Homo sapiens: one gene and its partner. Changing the gene in region 1 together with any one later gene gives a genetic interaction. Each region holds a gene or a part of one and is shown on either strand. Other genes may lie near its edges.

The links.
Region 2: changes in ASCC3 (region 1) and WDR7 together harm fitness more than expected from each alone (negative genetic interaction), as found in Homo sapiens cells (one large-scale study listed by BioGRID).

Annotation. Positions count from the first base shown.
Region 1 is NC_000006.12:100,874,701-100,878,352, forward strand, and holds part of ASCC3 (activating signal cointegrator 1 complex subunit 3), read right to left. Parts: intron 1-3,652. UniProt on the Homo sapiens protein: ATPase involved both in DNA repair and rescue of stalled ribosomes. 3'-5' DNA helicase involved in repair of alkylated DNA: promotes DNA unwinding to generate single-stranded substrate needed for ALKBH3, enabling ALKBH3 to process alkylated N3-methylcytosine (3mC) within double-stranded regions.
Region 2 is NC_000018.10:56,649,837-56,653,588, forward strand, and holds the start of WDR7 (WD repeat-containing protein 7), read left to right. Parts: upstream 1-1,522; 5' UTR 1,523-1,740; intron 1,741-1,860; exon of another isoform or gene 1,861-1,962; intron 1,963-3,752.

The sequences.
Region 1 (3,652 bases):
GAGCTTACAGTATGGTTGGGAAGAAAGAAAAATAGTTGCAATAATTATGCAGCTATAACTGTAGGAAGACAGGGAAGGAGCATCTAAAGGGGTGGGAGGGCACTAGATATAAAGAAGGAAGCTGAGCTTGAGCTGAGACTTAAAGGACCTAGACAAGGTTATTACAAGAGGTAAACTATGAGGGGGAAAGCCAAAATAACAGACTTAATTACTTTTAAAACCCCTACAGAATGTGCATTTGGAAACTGATGAAATAAGACCTAAAAATGTAAGCAGAGACCAAACAACATGTCTCAAATTAGGCACTTTTCATTCTGATAATCAGAATCACTGAAAAAATACTAACATGTTACAGAAAAATTACTCAGATTTACATGTGGTGAACTGTCAAGGTGGGGTCAAACAGGACACAGGCAAACCAGTTGGGAAGTTATTTCAATAAACCAACTGAAAGACAGAGAGGATAGAATTAAGCCAGGGAAACACATAAAAGGATGGATTTAGGAGATCAGTATACTTGGAAGACAGAATCAATGTGGAATAGGATTTAAAGAAGGAGAAAGGAGCAGGACACTCAAATTTCTGGCTTAGGAAATGTTGAAGAGTGGAGGAGTCTATATGTATAGAGGGCATCAGGAAGAGGAATGATAATTCTGTTTTGGAAAACTTTAATTATGGGCTATCAAGTGGGGCATATGGTTTTGGATTTCCTATCAGAGGTCTGGGCTGGAAATCCAGAATTTCATGTTATCACTTCATCATAGTTAAAACCATGGATGAACATAATATTGTCTAAGTCAAATATACATAAGCCCATGGACCCTCTTCCTAAGAAAACAGACATACATACATATAAACAACATTTTGTACTCCATTTCAAAAGCTGCATGAATGCCCATTCATGCACTCCACCCCTAAAGGCCTCTTGGAAGTAGACAGTAGAGAGTTAAGAACAGAGTTCTAAGAAAGTGATCCACAAATCAGTTGTCATATGGAAAAGTGATATGACAACAGAAAAGAAAGTTTCAAATGACATGATACAGTCCACTGTACTCAGCCACTCTGCGGTCCTAGATGACTAGCACACCTAGTTTCCAAAAATGGTAGAAGCTAAATCTCAGTGAGTTGAAGGATAAACGCAAAGGGAGAAAATAGGGAAAAAACAAACAAACAAACAAAAAACCCTACAAATGGGTACATGCTATTCTTTCAAGAAAATGAGAAAGAAAAGGAGAAAAAGTAGGAAATACTGAAATAATGTGGTTTAAGAGTTTCTGAAAATAAAGGATAGAGTTGATCATGATTTTATCATAATCAGGGGAGAGCAAAGAGAGAAGGAAAAGTTGAGCAATCAGGAGAAAGACTGTGACTGATGGAGTAGGGTCTCTGAGAATGCAGGCGAGAATGACAACAAAAGCATAGGTCTAGAGAGACTTGGATAGATGAAGGAGTACGGAAGGAAGGATGAGTGGAAGTGCATATGGTTATAACATGGTTAAGCAGAGGGTGAATGAGGAGAGAAAAACATGGTAAAAGGGAGTTCCACCAAAATGACTCTGATTTTATTTGAGATATGCTAAGACTGTTCAAACAGGTGATGAGGTGGGATTTTTTCTAACACAGAGGCAAAAGTCTGAACTTACCACCCACAATAATAGAAGAAATATTTTTCAGGTAGCAATGAATGCTCAGCTCATACTGCAAACAATTTAAGGTGGCAATAATCTGGCATAGGAACAAAGGTTGGTGTGAACCAGGGTTAAGGTTTTGTAACACAGAGGCAGTGGGACAATGAAGCCTAAATGATAAGGGTTATTAAGTGCTTAACTTTAGGCCTAGATGAAAGGAAAAGATGTTCAACTAGGAGGTCTTAAAGATGAATCATAACATTCATAGTTAAAATTTCTGGTAAGATCACAGTGAATAAGGATTAAGAAAAACTGGCCTACATATCAATTTTTACCTTACTAATTTTTACTCCACATTTAATATGGTCCACTAAATGACAAATATATAAATGAAAAATTCTGTTAATAATAAATATTTAATGCCCCAGAACAAATATAATTTCTAAAGGATTGAAACCCTAAAAGCCTACTTCTGTTCGTCAGAAGTACTGGCTGTGGCTATCTGAACAAATCTTTAAATTGTTAATTAAACATACGTACAGGTAAAAAGAAAGTCTTAAAAATGTAACTGTCCTTTTTTACATTCCAAATAAGGAGAAAACTAAACTGATGGTAGCATATTTCCTTTTGCAAGATGATATTAACCAATAATCAGTGAGCTAGAATTCCAGTACACACTATTCTGAAGTACTACATTTAAAATTGTAATGTTTATTCTTCTTAAACCAAACCTGTGTTTCTAAACTCTAAAGATGGTCTGACTGCTTGATAGCAACTTTAGGAAAAGATAGTTACTGTATTTTTTCGTTATAAAAATATGAAAAGATCTCCAAAACAGCCAAACTATATTTCCTAATAAGTTTAAAGTCAGCACTTAGTTACTGGCAATTATGGATACTAGGGAATTATTAAAGGGACAAAAATAGTCAAAGTGATATACTGCAGATTAAGGGATAAAAACACTGACATGAAGGAGTAGGTTGTAAATGGAGTAAAATTAGAATTTAAGATTTCAGTACTTAAAATAGAATCTTGTACCCACAAACCACACCTTGAAAAATGAACAGTGAATAAATATTAAACAGTGAATAAGAATATTTATATTTTATTGTGCCTTTTTTAAAAATTGAGTTGTGATATTGTTAACATTAGCAAGATCAGAACTCAGAAAATAACCATCGTCGACACATATTTATAATCCTCCATTATGCGATTTCAAAAGGGGGTGATTTTTTCATGATAAATCCTAAAGATAATTTAATTTCTTACTTGTATTAAACCTTATTACCATCAATTGGTTCATACAGCAGAGTCTAGGCACATTTAACTTTCTTGAATCTACCAAACACTGTAGGCCAAAAAAAGGAAGGCAGAGACAGACAAAAACAATAATTACTAGAGATTCTGCTTACCATTTCAGGTATTGAATATCTGCTCCAGAGTGAATGGGGGATGGGCAACAAGAATCTTGCTCTTTTAGTCTGTTTCAATCACCACATGCATCTCAAAATGTGAGCATCTTGCTGCATTGCATGATTCTAGTTTTTAACACTTTTTCTCTTTTTTTAAAAAACATACAAGGTGGTGACCAAACACAGAGCAACTTTTTCACTGGGAGTTCATCTAAAGAAACTGTGATACATTCCAAGTCAGGATGAAAAACATGGCTGTGTAGGACATGCTGAGAGACAGCATGTTATGCCAACTTGATGTCCTTTTAAGGGATTCTCAAAGGTAATCTTAGCTATTCACAGTTTCCACCTAACAAGTTCACTTTAGATGCTAACTCATTCTTAAGCAAGAAGCAATTGCTCCTGAATAGTTCTCAATCAAGTTAGGAAACACATCTGAAGCATGCAGAACAGAGAAAGCATGACAAAAATAATAAAACACATAAACACTTTTCACACAATACAAAATATATAATGGTTAAAAACAACCAAATTTCTATGGGGCTCTTATTCTCTAACTTATCCTCTAACTAGGTTTCCCATTCAAAGGTGGGGGAAAAAAATCCTGGACAG
Region 2 (3,752 bases), on another chromosome or scaffold:
CAGATAAAACCCGTGACTTACTTTAACCAATAATATATGGCAAAGGTGATGGCTGTCACTCCCTAATTTAGGTTATCATCTACATCCATTTCCATATCTATGTCCATGTCCATATCCATGGCTGTATCTATATCTGTGTGACTCCTTTCTTGTGCTCAGTAGAGAGATTCTCCTTGCTAGCTTTGAAGGAGTATGCTGCCATGTTGCGAGAGAGCCTTTAGTAAGGCCCATGTGGTAAGGAACTGTGGGTGGCTGCTAGGACCTGATGGCCACTTCCAGTTCAGAGCCAGTAAGAAGCCAGGGCCCCTAGTCAGACAGCCACAAGGAACTGAATGAGCTGACAGGAGTTTGGAATCAGATTCTTCCCTAGTTGAGCCTCCAGATGAGAATTGCAGTTTGGCTGACATCCACTTGTAGCCTTGTGAGAGCATGAGCACAGGACTCAGCTAACCTGTTCCTGACCTCCTTGCCCATGGAATGTGAGGCAATACATATGTGTTGCTTTAAGCCACTAAGACACTAAGACTGTGATAATTTGTTGTAAAGCAATTTTAAAAACCTGAATACCATGTGGTTAGGAAAAGTGCTACACTATTTATTAGTCAAAAGTCTTCAATTACTTTTCATTGTCTTTGGAATAAAGACCAAAAAGCTTATATGGCCACTAAAAGCCTCTTGTTATCTACATTATTCTATTTTTCCATGTTACTTTTTTATTACCTGGTCTAGGCCGAATGTGATGAAGTCTCTATCAACCCACAAGAGAGCTCCAGGGCATAGACTGCCTGTTAAAGGAGCCGCTCACGGAGCAGAAACAGCTAAGCCCTGATACCACATTTTCCCACTTCACCTACTTCACGTCCCTTGTATTTCTTCCAAATTTAACTTTCTATTTATTGCATATATTCATGTTTTACATTTCAATGCTGGTGACAAAGTTGTTTTCCTTTCCCAATTATTATTCCAAATCTGACCAATTTTTCTAGACTTCCATATGACCTAATGTGATTATCCTTCCTTACCCCAACCTAGAAATAATTCATCTCTTTTCTTCCTTGCTCCTTATTTGGCATTTCTCATCCTGCACTATACTATAGCTTATCTATCTTGGGGGACATTTGTCATTCTTTTTAGCTTTCCAGCATCCAACATACTTTCCAGTGTTTAGGGAATTCCCTACCTCTTGCATCTCAGTGGGAAGCAGTGTGATGGGGTCAGAAGTGTAAACTTGCGCAACATCCTGCTCCCAAGAAAGACGTGCACTTGCTACTTCATCCTTCGCTCCATCTTGGTCCTCCCAACTGGAGAGAGGACAGCCTAGACGAGACTTCCCACAACCAAGATGGCGGCCGTGCACTCCTTGCCCACAGCTGGCCTTTTCTCCACTTTCGGTCTCCATCGTAACGCGGCTGGCTCTCTCGGCGCCGGCTTAGGCCTTGCAAGTAGGGAAATGGTGAGTCTTTCCCGCCCCCTCATTTTTGCGACAGTTGCAGCGAAAGTCACGGCAGTTGGGGCTGGTGTCAGCTGATTTACTGCAGTGGCGGCGGCGGCGGCACCGGCACCTTGCAGTATCACTGGGGAGACGGCGGCTGTATAGCGCTTGCCGCCCCACGGATTATCCCAGCAGGATCTACGCACCCCGCATCCTCCGTAGTTCCGCCCTATCCTTGTCCTCCTTGGCTGGGGCGCCCACCGGCGGTCTGATAGGCTACATCGCGGCATGAGATGAAGCTGTGACAGGTAAGGGGGCTTTCAAGCTTCTCCATGGGAAACCACAGGGCGGGATGTTCCTGCACCGTGGAGGTCAGGGGTCAGGGGTCAAAGGTCACAAACCCGCTCTAGCCGGGGGCGGTGCTAGCTGTCAGATCGCTGCGGCTGCAAGCCTGCAGGTCGGGCCCAAAAGTAGGCGCCGTTACCAAGAGCGTGGGGGCCAGCCGGGGGTCTTTGTGGCTCCCTTGCCTGGTGAGTGATATTTGCTACTTGTGACAGTTGCTTTGGTCTTGAGGTGGGACTGCCTGGTTCCCAGGTGCAATCTAAACGGGATCAGGTGATTGGTGATGATCGTTGGTGGTTATTGACAGCAATTTTGGGCGATGTGCTTGCTTTTGGGGTTCATATAGTCTTTCCTTTCCTGTTGGTACTATTTTTGCCCATGCCCAAGGTACTGACACCACTGTTAGAATTTCATTTTTGAGATGCCATCTGCCAGTTCTTATCCCTTTGCCCTAGTACTTGTCTGAGCGGATGCCAGTCACTCCCATTCACTTAGTGATGGGTCCCAGCGTTCTGAAGCTATGTTTGAAGTCAGCACTACCCTAACTTTGATTCAAAAATTGCTGTTTTATGTTTTTTACCCACTTAGTATGTCACTTTTTGAGGCAGAATTTGCTGGGTTAGATAGTCTGAAACTAGGGAACCTACCGTCGCATGACAGGCTGCATTGATATTGTTGATGCTGCTGAATTTAGGGTTCGGTCAGTGGCAGCTATAGCTTCCTCTCACTGTAATATTTGCCATGAGACAAAAAAAGGCAAACTGACTCTTTCAGGTGTTTATGTCTTAGGATTTTATGGGCAAGGTTGCAGGAATTGCCTGTTGTATGAAAGAAATTAACTGAGTTTTTGACATTTTGTAAAACAAAAATTTTAGTTTGACTCTGCTTCTTGCTTTATAAACAAACTCGTGGCTGTATGAAGGTCAGCTTAAAAGTGAACATAATGTGTTGAAATGCCCTCATTATTACAAAGAATAAAAAACTGTCTAGTTCCATCCAGAACAATACATATTAGTTATTATAAATTGGGAAAACGAACCACTATAAATATAATTAATGCTTTATTATTAATGTCAATTAGGGATTATGGTAGAAAATTCATTTATTTTACTGCCAATCCTTATTTTAAGAGTGTTTCAGAGAAATACTTTAAGAGAAAAATGAGAGTATGCCCTTTATTTTTTCTTATTGCCACCTGTAACTAAATTTTAAAAGATCTCGGTGACTGGGTGAATCAAAGGGACTGGGCTTGGCTTGGTTTGAATATCCCTGTAAGAATTTAACTTAAATTTTAGGGGTAGTGACCCTTGTATCTTACAGTTTCCTTTTATCTTTGATATATGTTCCGTTTTGAAGTTAAAGGAAGTTGGGTGGTTTCTCCATGTAACACACTTAGCATCGAAAATCTTCAAAGTAGTGAGCTTGTTTTGTGTTTTCTTCGTGAGAGGGGTAGGATGACATTTAGCTTTAGTGGTGTGATGTTTATTAGATGTATGAGTCCTTAAAGTTCATTTTGGACCTCAGGTGCAGAGGATGGAGTTAATCTTACTCAATTCAATGGGCTGTTCAAGGCATCTCCCCTGCCTGCATTTTTCGTTCTTCTTTTTTTTTTTTAGATGGAGTTTCGCTCTTATTGCCCAGGCTGGAGTGCAGTGGCGTGATCTCAGCTCACTGCAACCTCCCCATCCCGGGCTCAAGCGATTCTCCTGCCTCAGCCTCCTGACTAGCTTGGGATTACAGACTGTGCCACCATGCCTGGCTAATTTTTGTATTTTTAGTACACATGGGGTTTCACCATGTTGGTCAGGCTGGTCTCGAACTCCTGACCTCAGGTGATCCACCAGCCTTGGCCTCCCAAAGTGCTGGGATTACAGGTGTGAGCCACCACATCCAGTCTCATTCATTGTTTTTTGTTTCTAATTCCCGCTGTTTTCTCTTGCTCATCAACCCATATGCAACCATTCTGTATGATGTGTAT